2 separate regions of the Homo sapiens genome follow, and region 2 is linked to region 1. A link means that fine-mapping ties the variant in region 1 to the expression of a gene that starts in the linked region. Tissue or cell type: whole blood. Region 1 holds a variant in brackets; the other region holds the start of a gene. All regions are shown on one strand. Distances are from middle to middle. Region 1 overlaps ANKRD33B (ankyrin repeat domain 33B). Region 2 holds the start of ANKRD33B (ankyrin repeat domain 33B).

Region 1 (9,605 bases):
TTAATTCCGTGATGCCTCTGTGTCTGTCTGACAACATCTCTCGTGGGGTCTGTGACTCTGCTGGTCTTCAGTGCCCACTGAGAGGGGTCCTTTGCCGTCATCAGGCATAAAATCTTCAAAGCTCTCCATCCTCAATGTGGGGTCCCTGGGCCAGTGGCATCAGCCTCACCAGGAAACCTGTTGATCTGCTCATTCTTGGGCCCCACCCCAGGCCTATTCAAAGAAAGACTCCAGGGGCAGGGCCTGGCAGTCTGTGTTTCCACCAGATCTGTGTTAATGCTCACATGAGCCAGCCCAGGTGATGCTGACGCCGGAGGCGCAAGATTGGGAGCCAGTGTCTAAGGAAACTATGCCCATGGGGACAGGGGCAGCCCCTGGAGGTTCAGAAAGAAATTAGGGAAAATCTCTTCGGCACATTGAGGCAATTAAGACACACACAAGGAAGCTTTTTAATCTGTGTTTGTTTAAATGGTGTAAAGTCCCTCTCCCCTCTGCCTCCGTATGCAACCTCAACAATTCAGTCCCAAAGCCTCAGGCAGCAGCCTAGGTTGGGTGTCCAGGGATCAGAGCCCAGGCCAGAGGGTGGGTGCACACAGTGGCGGCCACAGAGAGCTCAAGCAAATCAGTAAGTAGGGGAAGATAACAAAAGCCAGTAAAAAAGAAAAAAAAGGCCAGGCCCGGCGGCTCACGCCTGTAATTCCAGCACTTTGGGAGGCCAAGGTGGGCGGATCACTTGAGGTCAGGAGTTCAAAACCAGTCTGGCCTACATGGTGAAACCCCGCCTCTGCTGAAAATACAAGAAGTAGCTGGGCACGGTGACTGGCGCCTATAATCTCAGCTACTCGGGAGGCTGAGGCAAGAGAATCGCTTGAACCTGGGAAGCAGAGGTTGTAGAGAGCTGAGATTGTGCCACTGCACCCCAGCCTGGGCGATAGAGCAAGACTCAGACTCAAAAAAAAAAAAAAAAAGAAAAGAAAGAAAGAACGAAAGAAAACAAGAAGTAAAGAAAAAATACATTATAATAATGATTTTATTTAAATTGAAAAGGCAGAGTAAACCCATCTAGGCATCAAATCATTAACAACAGTTATCTCCAGAGAGCAGACTGAAGAGAGGGCTGACAGTGAGGTGGAAGAGGTATTCACCTCTAATTTCCTTGCTCATGTGGGGTCATTTTCCCCCCAAACACTGTGTATTGTATTTTAAAATCAGCCTCCAAGAACATCAGCCAGGCCAAGTGGAGGAAGCAGGATAATGGCTGAGGCCTCTGCCCGCCTCCTCCTGTCCACCCAGGCAGGTTTCCAGCTGTGATGCTGCCCTCAGGATAGCCCAGACCCTGGTACATACCCCGGCCACCCGATCCTGCTACCTGACTTGGACTCCAGCTCTGTCTGGCAGCACGGCTACCCCTGGGTGGGCCAGCTCCCAAGAGAGCTGAGAACACAGGAATCTTCCCTCCTATCCAGCTTCCCACCTGCCACAGTCTGAATGTTTCTGTCCTCCGAAATTCCTGTGCGAAAATCCTGCCTCCAGGATGACACTACAGCAGGTGGCTTTCGGAGGTGATTAGGTCCTGACGGAGGGGTCCTCGTGGTGGGATTAGTGCCCTCACAAAAGAGGCCCCAGAGAGCTGCTTATTTCCTTTATCACAGCCTAAGCAGATGAAGACACCATCTGTGACCAAAGGCAACAGAGAGAAGCCAGGAGTGTGACTAGAACCATCGAGGGACACCACCCAATTTCTGTTCCTTAAGGAAGATGGCAGGGACAGGCCTCTGTTGATGAGGAGGATGGGGTATTACACCTAATTCAGTGAACCCTGCAAAATTCCGGCAATGCCCCACAGATAGAAGGGCAGAAAAGGAGAGGTGGTCTATGGGGACGCTTTGAGACCCACTGATGCCATTTTTCAACACTCCAGGCACATGAGGCCAGGGAGGGCACTAAGCTCCCGAGGCCACCTTCCCCCTGAGGTCCCACCAGGCAAAGGGTGGGGGCTGCTCCTTGGTTGTTACAGGCTCCCATGCCACACTCAACTTGGAAGTAAAACTACACAGCCCAGGAGGGGAGTGGCTGCGGGGCCTGCACCTGGACCCGAGTTCTTCCCACCACGCCCCAGGCTGCTGGGCACTGAGCCTGGATGGAAATCAGCTGGAGCCCTTTCCTTCTTCCTTTGCCAGAGAGCCCTCCAATCTCCAAGAGGACCTGTGTCATCCTTGACTTAAAATAAACCAGAGAAGGATGAGCACAGTCCCTGCAGAAGAATGAGCAAGCCAGAAAAAAAAAAAAATAAAATAAAATAAAGCAAAAACAAAAAACAACCCTGGATCACTGTAAAGACAGTGAGATTCAAAAAGAAGGGGCTGGGCTACAGGTTTCAGGGCAGCATCTTCATCTGAAATAGATCGATTGCTCCCCGGTTGTCTAGTGCCTAGGAAACAATTTAAAAAATGAAATTGGTTTATTGCAAGAAGCAAAAGAACATTTTTCAAATTTTAACAATCCATATTCTTAGAAAAATTCAATAGGTCACTGACTCAGTGAAAAACATAAGCATTTGTGGAAAGGGAAGCAATTTGAAATCTGGAGAGACTGCATAAAGTTAAAAAAATTTAACCGCGTTTTTGAATATGGTGCTATAAGACCAATAACTTTTGGTAGAATATGTTGGAAGAAAACAACCACAAAGAAATATGGGCTTTTACTTAGGTCTGATGCTGGTAGCAGTGGTGGTATTCTAATTTCTGATTCTTTGGTTAAAAAAAAACTGTTCATAGCTGGAAACTGAGCTAATGAGGTGACTGGGTCTCTTTTCCCTCCAGGGAAGTGCTGGTGCTGGATGTGGGGTTCTGGGTGCTGTCCAGGGGACCCTCTGGCAGTATTCAGTTCCTAGGCTGCTCCACAACTCTACAAGGTTAGAAGTTAAGCTGTAAAACTGATTGTCCACAGCAAGGCAATTGCATTGTATCTGGTAGAGATATAATTTACTTCCTGTTATAGCTCAGGCTGCTATGACAAAATACCATAGACTAGGTGGCTTAAACAATAGACATTTATTTCTCACAGTTCTGGAGGCTCCTCCTCCTGTTTGCAGGCAGCTGTCTTCTCACTGTGTCCTTACATGGTGGGGAAGGAGCGAGCTCTGGTCTCTTCCTCTTCTTATAAGGACACTAATCCCATCATGGTGGCCCTACTCTCATGATCTCATCTAAACTTAATTACTTCCCCAAATCCCCACCTTCTAATGCATCACATTGGGAGTTGGGGTTTTAACATATGAATTTGAGGGGGAGGACATAAACATTCAGTCCATAACATCACCTTATAGAAAAGATAACCCACAACATTATATTCTATTGCCTTATAGGATATTAACCAGTTTTGCATCTATTAGCAGATGTATTTCAGCATTTGTGATTGCCTCTATGTGCCTGTTCTTCAAATTTCCTTTGAACTGGCCTTAACTAATTACTAGCCCATCACTAATTAATGAGTTTTCACTTTCTGTCCACCTAAGAGTCAAATTTTTAAGCTTTTGAAAATTATCCTTTAGTATCACCACTTTGTGCACATTTGTCGTAGGACAGGAAAATGGGTAAATGCATTGTGATTGCTGCAAACCAGGTTTCTTGCCGACAAAGAATGGGGGAAGCATATGGAAAGGGTGAAGAGGAGGAATACTATGGTGTTGCATTTGGATTGGAGGTATCCTTATTTTTTAAATATTTTTTTTTCTAACTCTGCTCACTGAAATGCCTAGAAGCAATAACATTTAGTGTGAATGAGCACAGCTAGAGTCCAGATTTTGGTTTCTAAATACCATTCCTCACTAAAAAAAGAACTATCATTCCTTGAAGATACAGCTGGTTACAGACAGGGACTGGGAAAGTCCAGGGAGAATGTGGAACACTTTGGTGTGCCATAAATCAAGAAAATACTCAAAACTGACAGAAATATGACAAAAGGACACTGGAGCCATCTTCAGGGTTACCAACTGGCTGGGTTTGGGATAACTTCAGCACTGAAAAGAACAAAGG[C/T]GTTATTGAAGTAGAACACACGAGATTTTTAAAAAATGAGTAATGGTACCAAAAAAAGGGTGGGGCTAAAGGAAAGCTCTTCTTTATAGAAAAATATCAGATAATAAGTGTAAAATAAATGATTCAGAAAAGGATTATCAATGGCAAAAACTGGTGGGGAAACAGGATATTCATACAATCTCTAAGTATCACCTTGCAGATTACTTACTAATTACAGAGGGGAAATATCTGCCTTTAAAATGGAGAAATGTAAGCAGTTCGTCAAATTTAGCATCACCCACACCAGGACACACTGGCAGTATGTGTCCTGATAGGACACACCAAGGACATATCATGGCCAATGCCATATTCTTGCCAAAAATATACGATGTGCTCCTGACTCTGAAGAAACAATCATGGGTGAATATAAAATCAAAACACCTGCAAACAGGCAAGACTCTGGAAAGCACCTCATGGGTATCAAAGCACAGCTATTATCTCTAACGCACAAAGAGCTCTGGCAGATCAGTAAGAAAAGAAATCCCCTCTTATCGTACATTCTCATATTGTCATGACCTAATCCTTGTCCCAGCTCTCACCAGCAACACCTGTCCCTCATCTGTATTTCTAGCAGGGACCAGATTTTGGAGCTCCTTCTCTTCCTGACTTGCCATGGAGACCTCTTTACTTAGAGGTCTCAGAGCATTTCAAAGTCATGATAGCCAGCTCAAAACCAATGTTCCTCCCATTCATCTTCTTTTACTTATATGCCCTTTGCAGTTGGTGTTATCCCCTGTCCCAAAGCCCAAAGCCATCCTAGACCCCCAGCTCTCCTCCATGGCCCGCATCACCACCACCGCCAACTGTGTTTCTAGCCACACAGCTCCCGGCCCTTCCCTGTGCTCTGAGCCCTCTGCTACGCCCCTGGGATCCTCTCACCCCTGTCACCACTCACGCAGCCTCACGCTACTGAAATACATTCCCTTGCATTGGGCTTAGACCCTTAATGGTCTGGTCCCCATCCTTCCCTCATCTCTCCTAGACACACGCCATCCTACAGCCATGCCCACCTACACTGTCCCTAAGACTCGCCATTCCTGAGAACTGCCCGGCTCCCTCTCAGCCCCAGCTCAAATCCCCTTCTTGCAAGACCTTATCATGAACTTCAGGCTAGATAGAGTGTTCTCATCCCACAGCACCAAGCTCCGGCAGACAGATGGTGCTGGGCTTCGTGTGTTTCTCTGTCCCATGAGCTGCAGAATTACTCAAGGACGGGGCTGCCCTGCACTTCTGTATCCTTGGTCCCTGACATGGCAGCTGGCCCACGAGAGGAAACGAATCACTGAATGCCTTACAAAGCCCTTTCACACTCTTGCTAGGTTTTCAAAGCCTGGAACCCTCCATGGAAGTGATGCCTCACGCTTCGAAACCTGAGGAGGTGAACACATGTTAGCACAGCCCCTGGCCCTTTCTAAGTTTGAAGAGTTCCCCCACTCTATTCGTCTTGATTGAAAAGTAGGGTGCCCAGACCACTCCCACCACAGGGGATGAAACTGTCAAACACTGGTTTTCCAGCCTCCCTGGCCCCCCACCCATCAGATCCACCCAGGGTGGCTTTGGTCCAGGAGCTTGTGAAGCAACAAGGGACAAGGAGGTCTCCTTTTGGTGACAGCAACAGCCATTTCCCAACCAGAATCAACATACAGTGTGGTCGGGGGCACTTCCTCCAGTTTCCAGGCCCTGAGTGGGATTCTCAACAACCCGACAACCGTGTAAGCTTCCCCTCCTTCCTTCAACACACAAGCGCCTGTTCTTCCTGGCTCAGCTGCAGGCAGCTTCTTTGCTTGCAACTGAGAACTTGACCGATGAAACAGACAGAATCTTTGGAGGCAAAGAAATGTGAAAGGGGTCAGTGATAAACCTGGTCAAGACCACTGTTCCAAATGAAGTGTGATTATGAAGAGGCAAGCATAGGTTTCATGTCTGTCCTCAAAAAAATGTCTGGATACAGTTCCAAAGCAGGAGAGTCGCAATGCACTTGGCAATATTGACATAAGCACTGTCTTCTTGATGACTGATGGGCTGAGGGCCACATGCTTGGATACCCGCTCACAAGATGCTCCCACTGACTTCATCTCAGCTTGTTACACGGATACTCTAACAGCTCTCAGAAACAGTTCCTGGCGTTTCTTTAACTCTACAGGTGAAGTGCAAAGTCACCTTCTACACGTGTCTACTTTCATGATTAACTATCACTGAGACACATGATTGTGTCTCTTCCACTGGTGGGTCTGCCAGCCTCGTGCCACCCCCAGTCTTCGGGAGCAGGATGGAGTGTGAGGCTTCAGGTGAAGCGGTGACAAGGGTGGCTTTCTGGTACAGATTCATATTCAAAAACTTTGGGCAGTATCGGAGCTTGATCTGCCCATACTGAATTCTGAACAAGTGGGTAAATGCATAGCGTGTGGTCACAGCAATCAGCCCTTCCCTGGCACCCCTTGGTAGCAGGACATGGTCTCTGATCATTTCCATCCTGACTGCATCGCAACGGGAGCCCGGGCTGCCCGGCGGCGGTGCTCTGGCCACGGCTCTGAGAGGAAAGGGGAAAGCCAGCTCTTACCTGCCTGTGCAGCTGTGATTAGGGCTGTGTTCCCCTCGCTGTCCTGCCAGTTGACGTCAACGTGGGGGCACTCTGCTAAGGCCACCACGGTATCCACAAAGCCGTGGTAGCAGGCGACAATAAGGCCGGTCTAGAAATGAAGAGGGGAAGCGGGTCAGAGGGGCAGAGTCGGAGCATGGTGGGTCAGCACTGGGGACCCCGAGGGGCACCCACTACCCTCCAGGGGGCTGGACAAGGCAATGACAGGGACCTGGAGTCCCAATTCTCAGAGATGGTTTAGAGTGAGCCAGCCGCTCGATCCTTCTCAAATGTGTGTTGAGCACTGACTCGAGTGAGGGCCTAGACGTGAAAACATCAGTGAACTGCTAAGGTCTCAGCCCTCCTGGGGTGTGCTTTCTCCAGGGAGGGAAACACACCAACTATGGGGCTCGTAGAGAAATAAACGACAGAGCACGGCAGACGGCGATGGGGTAAAAAAGGTGTGTGCAGGGCGGGTGCAGCTCTCTAGGGAATAGAGTGGTCAGGCTGGGCTTGGCAGAGGTGATGTTGGGGTCCGTGTGTGAAAGAGGCAAGGCAGTGGGCCACAGGGACACAGAGAGGGGAAAATGCCCCAGTAGAGGAAACAGCTCAAGCAAGGGCCCCAACTCAGGACTGTGCCTGGTGCATCCAGGGAGCAGCCCATTGGCCGGCAGGGCTAGAGCAGAGTGAGTGAGAAGAGGAGGAGTAACCCGGGTCCAGGAGGCAACAGGAGGTCTCAGAGACCGTGGACAGGGGCCTGGGGACCCCCTGAGTAGGGGGAGTGTCCTGAGCCATCGGCTGCCAATCATCTGCATCCACTCTGGCTGCTGGGTGGGAAACAGGCTCTAGAAGAATGGGGTGGAGGAAGGGGGCTGATGGGAGACCACTGTGGGGCCAGGCAGGCAAGGATGGTGTCACACCAGGGTGGGGGCAGCAGCTGGGGAGGCGAATTTGGATTCTGGAAAGGAAGATTTGCTGTTAGAATGGAGGTGAGGTTGAATAGAAAAAGAGTCCAGGATGACCCCAGAGTTTCGGCCCTAGCAGCTGAGAGGATGCAGTTGCCATCAAATGAGAGCGACAGGATGTGGGACAGAGCGGGCGTGGGGACAGATGGCACGCAGACTTCAGTGTACTGTGGGAGACTGTCTCTGGACAACCCAGTGGTGACGTCAGGTAGAGATGAATAGCAGCGTGGAGTCATGGAGAGAGAACCAAGCTGGATACATACACTGATAGTTGATTTTGTAGATCTATTAATTAAGTATTACCAAATGTTAAAATCCTAGCTCCCAGTGGAATGGCGCAGGAAGTGGGGCTTTGGTGGGGTGATTAGATCACGAGGGTGGAGTCCTCATGAATGGGATTAGTGTCCTATAAAAAGGACCTCAAGAGCTCTCTTGTGCCTTTTTCCTCCATGTAAGGACACAGAGAGAAGTCTACAGTCTGCATCCTGGAAGAGGGCCCGGGCCAGAACCCCACCATGCTAGCGCCCTGATCCTGGGCTTCCAGCCTCCAGAACTGTGAGAAATAAATTTCCACTCTGTAAAAGATCTTGGACTTCTAGAACTGTGAGGAATAAACTTCCATTCTGAATAAGTACCCAGTCTATGGTGCTTTGTTGCAGCAACCCAAGTTGACGAAGAGACCTCGTAACAAAGGAAAACAGCGTAGACTCAGGTGTGAGGCTCACCGCCTCACAGACGTAGATACGGTGAGATGCTAAAATTCAACCCAGGGCAGGAGCTAATGACCAGGCAATCAAGTGTCACTCTTGGCACTGCCAGTCACACCACCACTGCATGAGAGGCACAAAGTTTATATTGAGAGCAACTCCACAGTGGCCCAGCCCAATCTTCACCAGATTTTTTTTTTTTTTTTTTGAGACAGAGTTTCACTCTTGTTGCCCAGGCTAGAGTGCAATGGTGCGATTTCAGCTCATTGCAACCTCCACCTCCTGGGTTCAAGCGATTCTCCTGCTTCAGTCTCTCAAGTAACTGGGATTACAGTCATGTGCCACCACGCCCGGCTAATTTTGTATTTTCAGTACAGACAGAGTTTCATCATGTTGGTCAGGGTGGTCTCGAACTCCTGACCTCGTGATCTACCCACCTCAGTCTCCCAAAGTGCTAGGATTACAGGCGTGAGCCAACACACCCGGCCAATTTTTAGTAAGAATATAATTTTTCATGGAACAACAAGAGGACTCGAGTAGCCCTGCCCACTTATCTCAATAAGGCTCCTAGTTGCCCCACAGAAGAATATTAAATCACAAATATTCACATGTTTAAAGTTCTACAGAATACCATTGATTTTCTAACACTGACATCCATACCACAGCATAATCAACTCAATAACTGTTGACTATGGTAAAGCCTCTTTAATATAATCTAGCTTAAGCACCCTTTGAAATAGGTCATTCCATCTATATGGTGAAATGTTTCACAATAATCTAATTTTAAATAGAAAAGAGTGGGCTGCAGGCAGGCTCTACTTAAAAGCCACTGAGGTTTTCAGCCTCTTTGGGAACTAAGAGTTCGCTGCCACCACCACCTCCATTCTCCCAGCTAACCTACCCACCTGCTTTCGCATAAATGTGCCGGAAAACTTGTCATCCCACCAGGGAGCACCCAAAAATCATTTTTAACTTCTTTGGATGGAGATATTGCTCTAGTATTCTACAATTTCCTGACTTATAAATAAAACATATTGAACATAATGTAACATCTTCCTTTGCATATAATTACACAAGTAATTCATATTTATTGCAGAAAAAGATCCAAAAATTAAAGAGAAGAAAAAAAGTTATAGACCAGACACACACATATGCACACATTTTTCTTCAAACTAAAACAGGACCATTTGCTATATGTCTTAGTTAGGACTATATCAGCAATATCTTCACATCAATAAAAGTAACTCTGTGTCAAAATTCCTGGTAGATACAGACTATC
Region 2 (9,605 bases), 56 kb after region 1:
GGTAATCCCAGAACTTTCAGAGGCCAAGCAAGAGGATCACTTGAGGTCAGGAGTTCAACACCAGCCTGGCCATCATGATGAAACCCTGTCTCTACTAAAAATACAAAAATTAGCCGGGCGTGGTGGCGCACGCCTGTAATCCCAGGTATGTGGGAAGCTGAGGCAGGAGATTCACTTGAACCCCGGAGGCGGAGGTTGCAGTGAGCAGAGATTGCGCCACTGCACTCCAGCCTGAGTGACAGAGCAAGACTCAGTCTCAAAAACAAACACGAACACGCAGAAGCAGAATCCCATCAGGACAGGAGTGCAGTATTTTAAATTGAGCATGTATTTGGGCCTAATTAAGTCCAAGAGCTGTCTGACATTTAAACTGCCCTTCTGCAACAATTAAAACAACACACTTTGTGTGTTTTCACTGTCATCTCAAGAGCCGCCAAGGCCATAAAGGTGAACTTCAGGTGATAGTAAGTGGAAGAGAAGAATTAAGAAAAAGAATTATGGCAGCTTGCACTGCCTCAAGTCAGAAGGAACAAAACAACCATAAATCCAGAAGACATTGGAAGCAAGCTTTGAATGTTATTGGGCAATTATCTGACAAATATTTACATGTTGCATATTAAATCATGCAATGCTTTTAGAGCAATAAATATTTTAGAAGGAAAATGGTGTGCTGAGCCACATCCAACATTCTACCAATCTCAGGAGGCAGGAGAGAATGCATTTTCTTAAACAAAACACATCTGACCCTTAGTTACCCAGACCAAATGGAATGCCTGTCAGCTCAGGCAAAGCTCCCTTCTTAAATGCCCAGAGATGAAGAGCTCAACAAGCATGTCCCAGAAAAGTTTAGACGCCTTTAGAGATCATTTCCTCCTAGAAAGCCGGCTGTGGGCTGTATCTGTGAGCTGTCATTCTGTCATTAATGCAATTACCCCTCCACTGCACCAAAGCTGTCCGGGCCTTCTTTAAGGTTTTCACTGCCACTAATCATGATAAGCTTGGAGACCAGGCTCCAACGAGGTTCCCACCTCAGTCTTTGCACACACTGTTCCCTCCGTCTAACTCCTCTTTCCCCTAGATGCCGTCTCTGCTCAAACGTCACCTGCTCTCTAAATGACCATCCTATTTATAATTTCAGCCCTAAATGTGTGAATGCCTACATTACCCTTGCTCAGCTCCAGGTTCTGTAGGCTTGGACAAGAGGAGACAGAAAAGCCTCCCAGGGAAGGTGCCCTTAAACCAGGAGCCTGCAGACAGAGAGGGAGTGACCCACACTGCCGTCGGGGAGACCGGACACCGTCATGTGAAAAGCAGTCCGTCTCCCAGTTTCCTAGGTCTCAGCTAGCCGCTCTTCCTCTGCAAGTTCTTCTCCTCACTAAAAGGCTAGGACTCTTCAAAGGCAGGGACTGCCAGATTCAGTTTTGAGTCTGCTAAAGTACCTAGCGGGAGCACAGTAGGTCTGCGGTAAACACTTTGGCAATGACTCACTCCATTTACCACAGAGCAGGGCATCAGGGCTTTGCCACACTTGATTCTTTCAGCTGTTTTTCAGGAAGATAGAGGCTGTTTGATCAACAGCCTTGAGAAGCTAATGAAAAGAATGGAGGCTCCTGCCTCGCTCCCCCCACTGGCCTCACAAAGCACAGAACACAAGCCCTGCTCCGTCTGATCCAAAGATGAAAGAGTCCAAGGGTCTCTAAGTTAGCAGGCTATGTCCGGGCCTACATCATTATTTTACGTGACACAGAGAAACAAAGTCTTCACTTCTGCTGTAATCAAAGGGGAAGAAAAGCAGCGAGAGAAAAAGCCTTGCCTGGCAGAAGACAAAAAACAAAACAAAACAAAATAAAACTGGAAGGTGCTCTCTTCCAAGCCAAGAGAAGGCAGACGAATGAGAAACACGATGGTAAACACAAGCCTGGGGCCAGGCCTTCCCAGAGCCTTGTGGGCACTAAGCCATTTTATGCTCACATCCTAAGAGGAGAGGCTGCCCTTATCCCTATTTTACAGACGAGGAAACTGAGGCAGAGAGCTGCTGGGAGGCTGGAGCTAGCCTCCCATACCACGGCCCTCCCCTGCCTCTCTGCTGTGTGGCCTGGAGACTCAGTCTGTTAGGCTCGAGCCCCTGGGGATGGTTTACGTTGCTGTCAGTTTTCTTCAATGCAGCTGTTTTCAAACATTTATGTTTTGCCCCTAAAGGAAACATTATATAAAGCTGAGCCCAGTGGTGCCCTAGAGTGGGGACTGGGCGAGCCAGGCCCCTCCTGTGCCCATTCCAGCCCACTGGAGACCACCAGGCTGCCCAGGACAGGGGGAGAGGCCCACCCCACCTGTTCCTTTATGAGCTTGGTGAGGCTTCCTTTAAAGCGGGCCCCCATACTGGCTTCCAGAAAGCAAGGTTTCTGATTACACACATCTGGGCCTGAAAACTCAGTTAAACCAAATGTAGAACTTGAGAAACAGGCCCTAGGACTTCGGGTGGAGCTCCAAGCCCTAATCACATGCCAGCCAGGGCATCTGTCGCCAGGGCTGGGGGAGGAGGCATTGCAAGAGGAATGGCAGCAGGAACTACAGGGCTCCAGGTGATGCTACCTACGGGGACGCCACCTCAGGTCTCACTGCCTAACATATGACAAGCACAGACCCTTCCTCCAAGTTCAAATGTTGTGTGATATGGTTTGGCTGTGTCCCCACCCAAATCTCATCTTGAATTCCCACGTGTTGTGGGAGGGACACGGTGGGAGGTAATTGAATCACGGGGGCAATGTAGTACAAGGGGAGAGTGACATTGGAGGGCTTCCCATCCACCTAAGCCCAGCCCAAACCACAGTCAGGGCAAACCACTTGCCCCACCCACTGCAGGATAAACCAAAGGCACAAGGTCACCCGGGTCCCCAAGTCAAAGCACATGTTTTCTGTCAGCTGCAGGCTCCTGAGCAAAAAGCATGTGCATTTGTGCTAGGCTGCATCTGCAGATACCACGGTCCTTGGACAATACAAAAATCAGGTGAGAACGCTGCCATTTGCCCACTGAGCACAGACTACGGGGAACTTGGCCACCGTGGTCACTCTGCAGTTTTCCCTTGAAGTGCTTTGCTTGGTGGAAGGTGTTCCACCAGCCAGTCCTTCTCAGGTCTTCTTAAGCCAACTTTTTTTCTTTTCCTTTCTTTTCTTTTCTTTTCTAAACATCTCGTTTTCTCTGAATCTGGTCATAACGAAAGGATAGCCTGTGCCTGCCTCCACGCCTCCTGCCCTACCCGGGTGGATGCCCGCGGCTCTGGGGCTCTCCCTATGCCCTGACTCTGGGGAGCCCCGGCTGGCATTGGCTCGCGAAGGTGACCTGCGGACAGACCAGTCAGAGATCACGTTGGCTGGTCGCGGCGCGGGCCACAAAGCTCAGCGGAGGTGGGGTAGGGGACCAAGCTGTCCCGGCGAGGGAAGAAACTGTTGCTTCCAAATCATTGCGGCTGGAGGAGCCGATCTGCGCCCCAGCGTGTTAGGACAAGGGCGGCGCGAGGGGCCCAGGGGCCAAATGGGGCGCTGGGCAGGAGGGGCTGTCTCCTGCAGGGGAGGAGGAATGGTCCCCTGCCAGGGACCTGGGGAAAGGTAATAGTCAGGAGGGGACCGGGCCGCAAGAAGCCCATCCTGGATTGCAGCACGGGCAGCCAGCGCGAATTCAGTCAGGAGGTCCACGGGGACCGGTAAACGAGAAGGGGATGCGGTGAGGACGCCGGACTGGCGTTTCTGCCGCGCTGACACCTCGACTGCTCCCTCCCCGCACCGCGTCCCCCAGCCTGAGACGGGGAAGCCACCCAGGGCACCGCGCTCCCAAACAGCGGGGAAAAGGCGCTCTGGGCGGCGGCTGAGTGACCGAGGGACCGGTCCGGAGCCAGGAGCTGGGAGGCGCGGGGATGTGGTGGGGAGGAGGGGAGTGGGGGCAGTGAGGGGGCTCAAATCCTGCGGGGACGCCCGCTTACCCTGCCGTTGCGGTCAGTCTCCTGCGCCTCCTCGACGCTCACCCCGCGCCGCACCAGCGTCCGCAGCAGCCCCACGTTGTTGGCGCAGGCGGCGCGCAGGAGGGTCGCCGTCTCCGGGACGCTTTCCGGGACGCCCTCCGGGACGCTCTCCGCGCTCTCGACGCCGTGCTCCTCCTCGTCCTCGAAAGGGTAGAAAGAGTCGTCCGAGGCGATGCTGCGGGTGTCTGGCAGACTCGAGAAGTCCTCAAACTCTTCGTAGTCAGCGGGGTCCTCCTCGACCTGCGCGCCCCGGGGTGGGGACGGCGGTGGTGGGGTCATGCAGCGCGCCCCGCCGCCCTCCGGCCCGGTCCCGGCCAGCAGCACCATGCCGGCGGCCGGGGCGCGGGCCGGGGGCCGGGGCGCGGGCAGGAAGAGCGGGACGCGGGGCGCGCGCCGAGGTCCCCGCTTCTCGCTTCTGCGTCCCCAGAGAAGCCGTGGCCCGCGCGCTCCAGCTCGGCGGAAACCGGCACCAGGCGGCTGCGCTCAAAGAAAAAAGTCTCCGGAGGCTGAGCGAGCCCCTGGGGTGGGCGGGACCGCGGGGGCTTTCCGAGGCGGGGCGGGGCGGGGCGCGGGGACACGCCTTCCCCCGGGGCCTTCCCCTCGCGCCCCTTCCTGGCCAGAGTTCAGAGCCAGGCAGGCGCTCTCTCGAGCGCGGGGACTGGGCACCTGGCAGCGTTGCCCCAGAGCTGGGGACAGCTGGCGCGGGAGAAGCAGAAGCAATCACTAAAGAAGCCGAACCCGAGTCGCGGGCGGCAAGCGGCCCCGCCCCTCCCTCCGCCGGCCCGCGGGATGGGGGCGGAGGTGGCGGCGGGGGGACGCCGGGGCGGAGCCGGCCTCCAGCTTCGGGAACCTCGGACCCCTGGAGCCGGCCTCCGCCGAGGGCGTCGGGCCCCCGGACCTGGGTGGGGCCGGTTTCTCCCGCCGCTTCAGAGGAGCAGAGCGGGTTTTCTCCCTTCGGGGGATCCCGGGCTTCGGGGCTGACTCCACCCGGCCGCGGCCGCTTGGAGGCCGGGGAATCCCCGGGGCGCTTGGCGGGCAGAGGAGCCGGGCGCGGGAGCGGAGCCGTCCACCTGGGACCTGTGCCCGGGGAGCGCTGCGGGCCGGGCCACTCTGAACTGGGGGCGGTCGGCTGCTGTGGGGGAGTCCCAGCCCGGAAGGGAGGACAATCCTCAGAGTCCCCCGTCTCGCGGAACCGGGGCCGGCCGTGGCTTGAGGGTTGGTCAGATCCTGGGATGGGGGGCGGGGTGTTCCGGAACCTCAGGGAGCATCTGAGTGGGAACGGACGACGAGGAACTCCCCGTCCCCATGCCTGGCCTGTGTCACGTGCGGGGATCTGCGGACTCACCCCCGGAGGCTGCGACTGGGCGCTGACCCCACGTCTGGCTGCCCAAAAGAGCAGGGCCGCGGGCGACAGCCGCAGTCCAGGCCCACAGCCCCTCTGGCCCGGCCTTGCCCTCTCCCCGTCAGTCCTGGCGCCGGGGATGGGCGGGGAGGAGGAGGGCGTGTGAGGATTTGCCACAGGGAGCCCTTGACTTCGGGGTAGGAGGCGTCGTGAGCCAATCTTGGGGGAAGGTCTCTGCGCAAAGGCGCGGAGGTGCGCTCGCGCCCGTCGCAGGTCAAAGACTGCGGAGGCCACCAGCCCTGTGTCCCCCTAGCCTCCTTCCTTCCTTTTTTTCCCCCGATCTTGACAGCGTGTCCACCAGCTGCCAGCCGGTGGGAGGCCCTCGCGGCCCCAAGGTGAACACAGCTAGGCTGGCGCAGCCGCTGGGGACCAGGCTTGAGGCCCACGTGCCGCTGGGCAAGCTGAGGGGCACGAGGGCACCGAATCCGAAACAGCCGTGGGAGGTGTAGGATGAGGACACGTTTAAACTGCGAAGCCGCTCGAGCCCTCGTGTCACACCGCACTGGCCCGACCCGCTGTCCTGGTCGCCTGGTCTTCCAGTGTCTCCAGCAGGAGCCAAAGGGCCTGCTGGCGGCCCCCGACCCGGCATCTGCAGGGCCCCGGAGGGTGGGGCGCGCGGGAGCACCGATTTCTGGTGAAGACGCCCTCGCACCTGGGCGGCTCTGAGCGAGCAGCGAACTGAGACTCGCTGGCCTCCTTCTCTACTCCGGGGATTCTTTCTGCAACCAAAAATAGCCCCCAGATTACAGTAAACTCTACCTTTTTGTGTAACTGACCACAGTTTGCATCAATTCCCACTGGGAATTTCCCCTTTCAAGGTTGAGGGTTGTTTCCAAAGGCCTGGGGTAGTTACAATTTCAAGTGCCCCCTGAGGGCTGAGTTGGGTTTGCTGGACCCACTGTCCTCCCAGGGAGAGCACTGCGTCACTTTACAGCAAGAGTCCCGGCTGCGGGTCACCAAGGCCCAGGTGGACAGGGCCAGGCCCTGAGAGGGGAGCACCACGCAGCCTTTTCTGGCCTCCCGTAGGCGATTGGTGCTCATTGACCGCGTCACTCAGCAAGGGAATTGAGGTTCTATCTTCAGAGTTTACCACTTCCTTTTCTTCCTTAGAAATTTGAGTCCAAATAGCATTTGAATGTGTTTCCCCTTAAATATAAACTAAAATGTCATCGTCTGCTTCAAAGAAGAACTATCGTTTATAAGTAAGTGGTCCGATTCAGGATGCAAGCTGATCATTTTCCTGTCTTTTAAAAATAAACCGCTAAGAAGAAACAATAAATAAAAAATAAAATATGCTTCTTTTACAACAAAGACAGTAGAGTCTGGACATTTCTGGAAGATGGGCTAAAAGAAACACAAAATCGACCGGGCGCGGTGGCTCACGCCTGTAATCCCAGCATTTTGGGAGTCCGAGGCGGGCGGATCACGAGGTCAGGAGATCGAGACCATCCTGGCTAACATGGTGAAACCCTGTCTCTACCAAAAATACAAAAACAAAATTAGCTGGGCGCAGTGGCGGGCGCCTGTAGCCCCAGCTACTGGGGAGGCTGAGGCTGGAGAATGGCGTGAACCCGGGAGGCGGAGCTTGCAGTGAGCAGAGATTGTGCCACTGCACTCCAGCCTGGGCGACAGAGCGAGACCCCGTCTCAAAAACAAAACAAAACAAAACACCAAAAAAAAAAAAAAAGACACAAAATCAGGCATAGGCATTTTTAGTAAAGCCAACATTTATTATATGTACAAAATCTGCATAGGTAGGAGAAAGTAGCTTATCAAAACTGCCGACTCAGGATAACTTAAATTAATATTCTGAGGCCAGGTGTGGTGGCTCACACCTGTAATTTCAAAACTTTGGGAGGTTGAGTCTAGCGGATCCCTTGAGCCCCAGGAGTTCAAGCCCAACCTGGGCAACGTGGTGAAACCCCATCTCTGCAAAACATACAAAATATAGCCTAGTGTGGTGGCGTGTGCCTGCAGTCCCAGCTACTTGAGGGGGAAGTCGAGGCTGCAGTGAGCCCTGATGGTGCCACTGCATTCCAGCCTGGGCAACAGAGTGAGACCCTGTCTCAAAACAAAAAGAGAAGTACTGAGAAATTATATTTTATCCGACTGTCAAGTTTCAATGAATTATTTTGTTATGATTTTGAAAGATATACATAGCAATTACACAATTTGTTCATTTAGTTGAATAATTTGTCTTTGGACCATTTTTTAAAAATTCAGCACTAGCTCAGTTATATGTCTGTAACATGCCTTTCAAAATTACAAGCAGTATGTTTATCTTGAAGAGAGAGAAAACTGCATGCACCTATAGGGCCTGCCCCACCTTGGTTTGGAAGGAGGGAGGCAGGGGGAACCTAGTGGTGGAGGAGCACACAAGTGCACCACAGTGTTCATAAAATAACTAGCTCCAGCACTTTGGGAGGCCAAGGTGGGCAGATCACTTGAGGTCAGGAGTTCGAGACCAATCTGGCCAACATGGTGAAACCCCATCTCTACTAAAAATACAAAAATTAGCCAGATATGGTGCTGCATGCCTATATTCCCCACTGCTCGGGAGGCTAAGGCAGGAGAATTGCTTGAACCTGGGAGGCGGAGGTTGCAGTGAGCTGAGATTGTGCCACTGTACTCCAGCCTGGATGACAGAGTGAGACGCCATCCCTCACCAAAGAAGAAAATAAAATAACCAGTTCCCATCTCCCAAGGCTAAATGAAGAACTGAAGGAGAGAGTGATTTAAAACCTTCTCACATTGTCTGGAATTTAGCAACAGTGTTAACTTTCATTAGTATGAAAATTAAAGTATCCATTCGCCTTGATATAAATTGTTCTGTAGGACCTGCTTCTCCAGATTCATTGCCTTATTTGCCGAGAGAGCTAGCCCAGGTGAAGTGAATGAGAAATGTGTATAGAAGGCAGTGCAGCTTGGGGTGAAGACCAGATAGTGATATCAGACAGGCTGGCTTCCAATTATGGCTTTACCACTGCTAAGTTACAATGATAATAGTTCTAGATTTTGAATGTCTGTTACTGTGGGGGTACCAATCTCCTATTCTTGATGTTTAGGGTATTTCCAACATTTTCCTTAGTGGACACAAATGCACCCTTGTCCAGGTATTTCCTCAGAAAAACATCCCACCTCAAGTGGCTTGAGCTTTTTAAACCCCAGTATTATGTGTAAAAATTGTTCTCAGTGAGAGAGACTGGGAGAGCCAGACCTCAAGCTCAGATGGGAAGACTCAGGGCTGTAAAGATCCTACTTGTCTTCATACTGTTCTAGAAATGACATGACCACATTCCTGTGTGAATGCTTGGAGGGGAACATGACAGCACTAATCCAAAGTAGATCTCATGAGATAACAACCGTCTGATAATTTCTTTTGCTGCTGTTGTTTTCATTGTCGTTGACGAAAGCTTTCCAGAGTTAGTCTCTGTTACTAGGAACTAAAACTCAGTTCAGCAAAACAGCATATTAAGAAAAAAACTCGACCGGGCGCGGTGGTTCATGCCTGTAATCCCAGCACAGAAAGAGAGAGAGAGAGAGAGAAAAGAAAGAAAAGAAAGAAAGAGCAAGCTAAATGGGGAAAAAACATTAATTGCAGAAAAAACATTAATTGTGCTGCTTGTGGCAAGTGGTTAGGATGATAGCCAAAACGTAGAGAGAATTCACAAACCAAGAAGGAAAAGCTGAGCATATTTATTAATTTGTTTAGCCCCTGTTGTTCCATAGTGAGGGAAATACAGCTCATTACGATGAAAAAGACTCATTCGCTTGCCTTAGGTAGCCGAAGGGAAACTGTGCCAGGAGGCGTGGGCTCTGCCTTCTTCAGCGAGTGAGCTGAGTGGTAGCTATAGTTAAAGGGAAACAGGCCAATCCTTGAAGTTGGATGCCAGAGAAGAAAACGAGGGTCTGGGGTCAGCCAGGGCTGGAGAGGGGACCTTAAGGCTCAGCTTCACAAAGGCTGGATGCTTTGTTTTCTCAATACCACCTTCCTCTCAGTCATCTTCTCAAAAGACAGAGCTGGGAGATGCTAATGGGCTGAGGTTTGTAACAGGCTCTTCCAGCTCTCCCACTGCCTACGAGAGAAGAAGTGAGTGGGGAACGGGACATCTCTTAGTCACTCATTTTTTAAAAAACAGTTTTAAAACACTCATGTTTTTAAAAACCAAAATGATTTGTTTTGGAGT

What was found. PIP is the estimated chance that this variant, and not a neighbour inherited with it, causes the effect.
Region 2: it holds the start of ANKRD33B, and the variant in region 1 is fine-mapped to the expression of ANKRD33B in whole blood (INTERVAL, PIP 0.97).

The regions. Positions count from the first base shown.
Region 1 is chr5:10,615,494-10,625,098 of GRCh38, reverse strand. ANKRD33B (ankyrin repeat domain 33B) reads right to left here. Exons shown (of 4, transcript NM_001164440.2): 2 at 6,637-6,766. Among named protein-coding and RNA genes, the nearest start is that of ANKRD33B, 56 kb to the right of the region's middle. The variant C/T (reference allele first, on the strand shown) is at 4,038.
Region 2 is chr5:10,559,206-10,568,810 of GRCh38, reverse strand. ANKRD33B (ankyrin repeat domain 33B) reads right to left here and starts at 4,741. Exons shown (of 4, transcript NM_001164440.2): 1 at 3,978-4,741. The coding sequence starts at 4,343. RefSeq lists enhancers at 1,568-1,617, 1,698-1,757, 2,285-2,786, 3,078-3,167, 3,188-3,237 and 3 more and silencers at 2,888-2,937, 3,908-3,957, 4,298-5,157.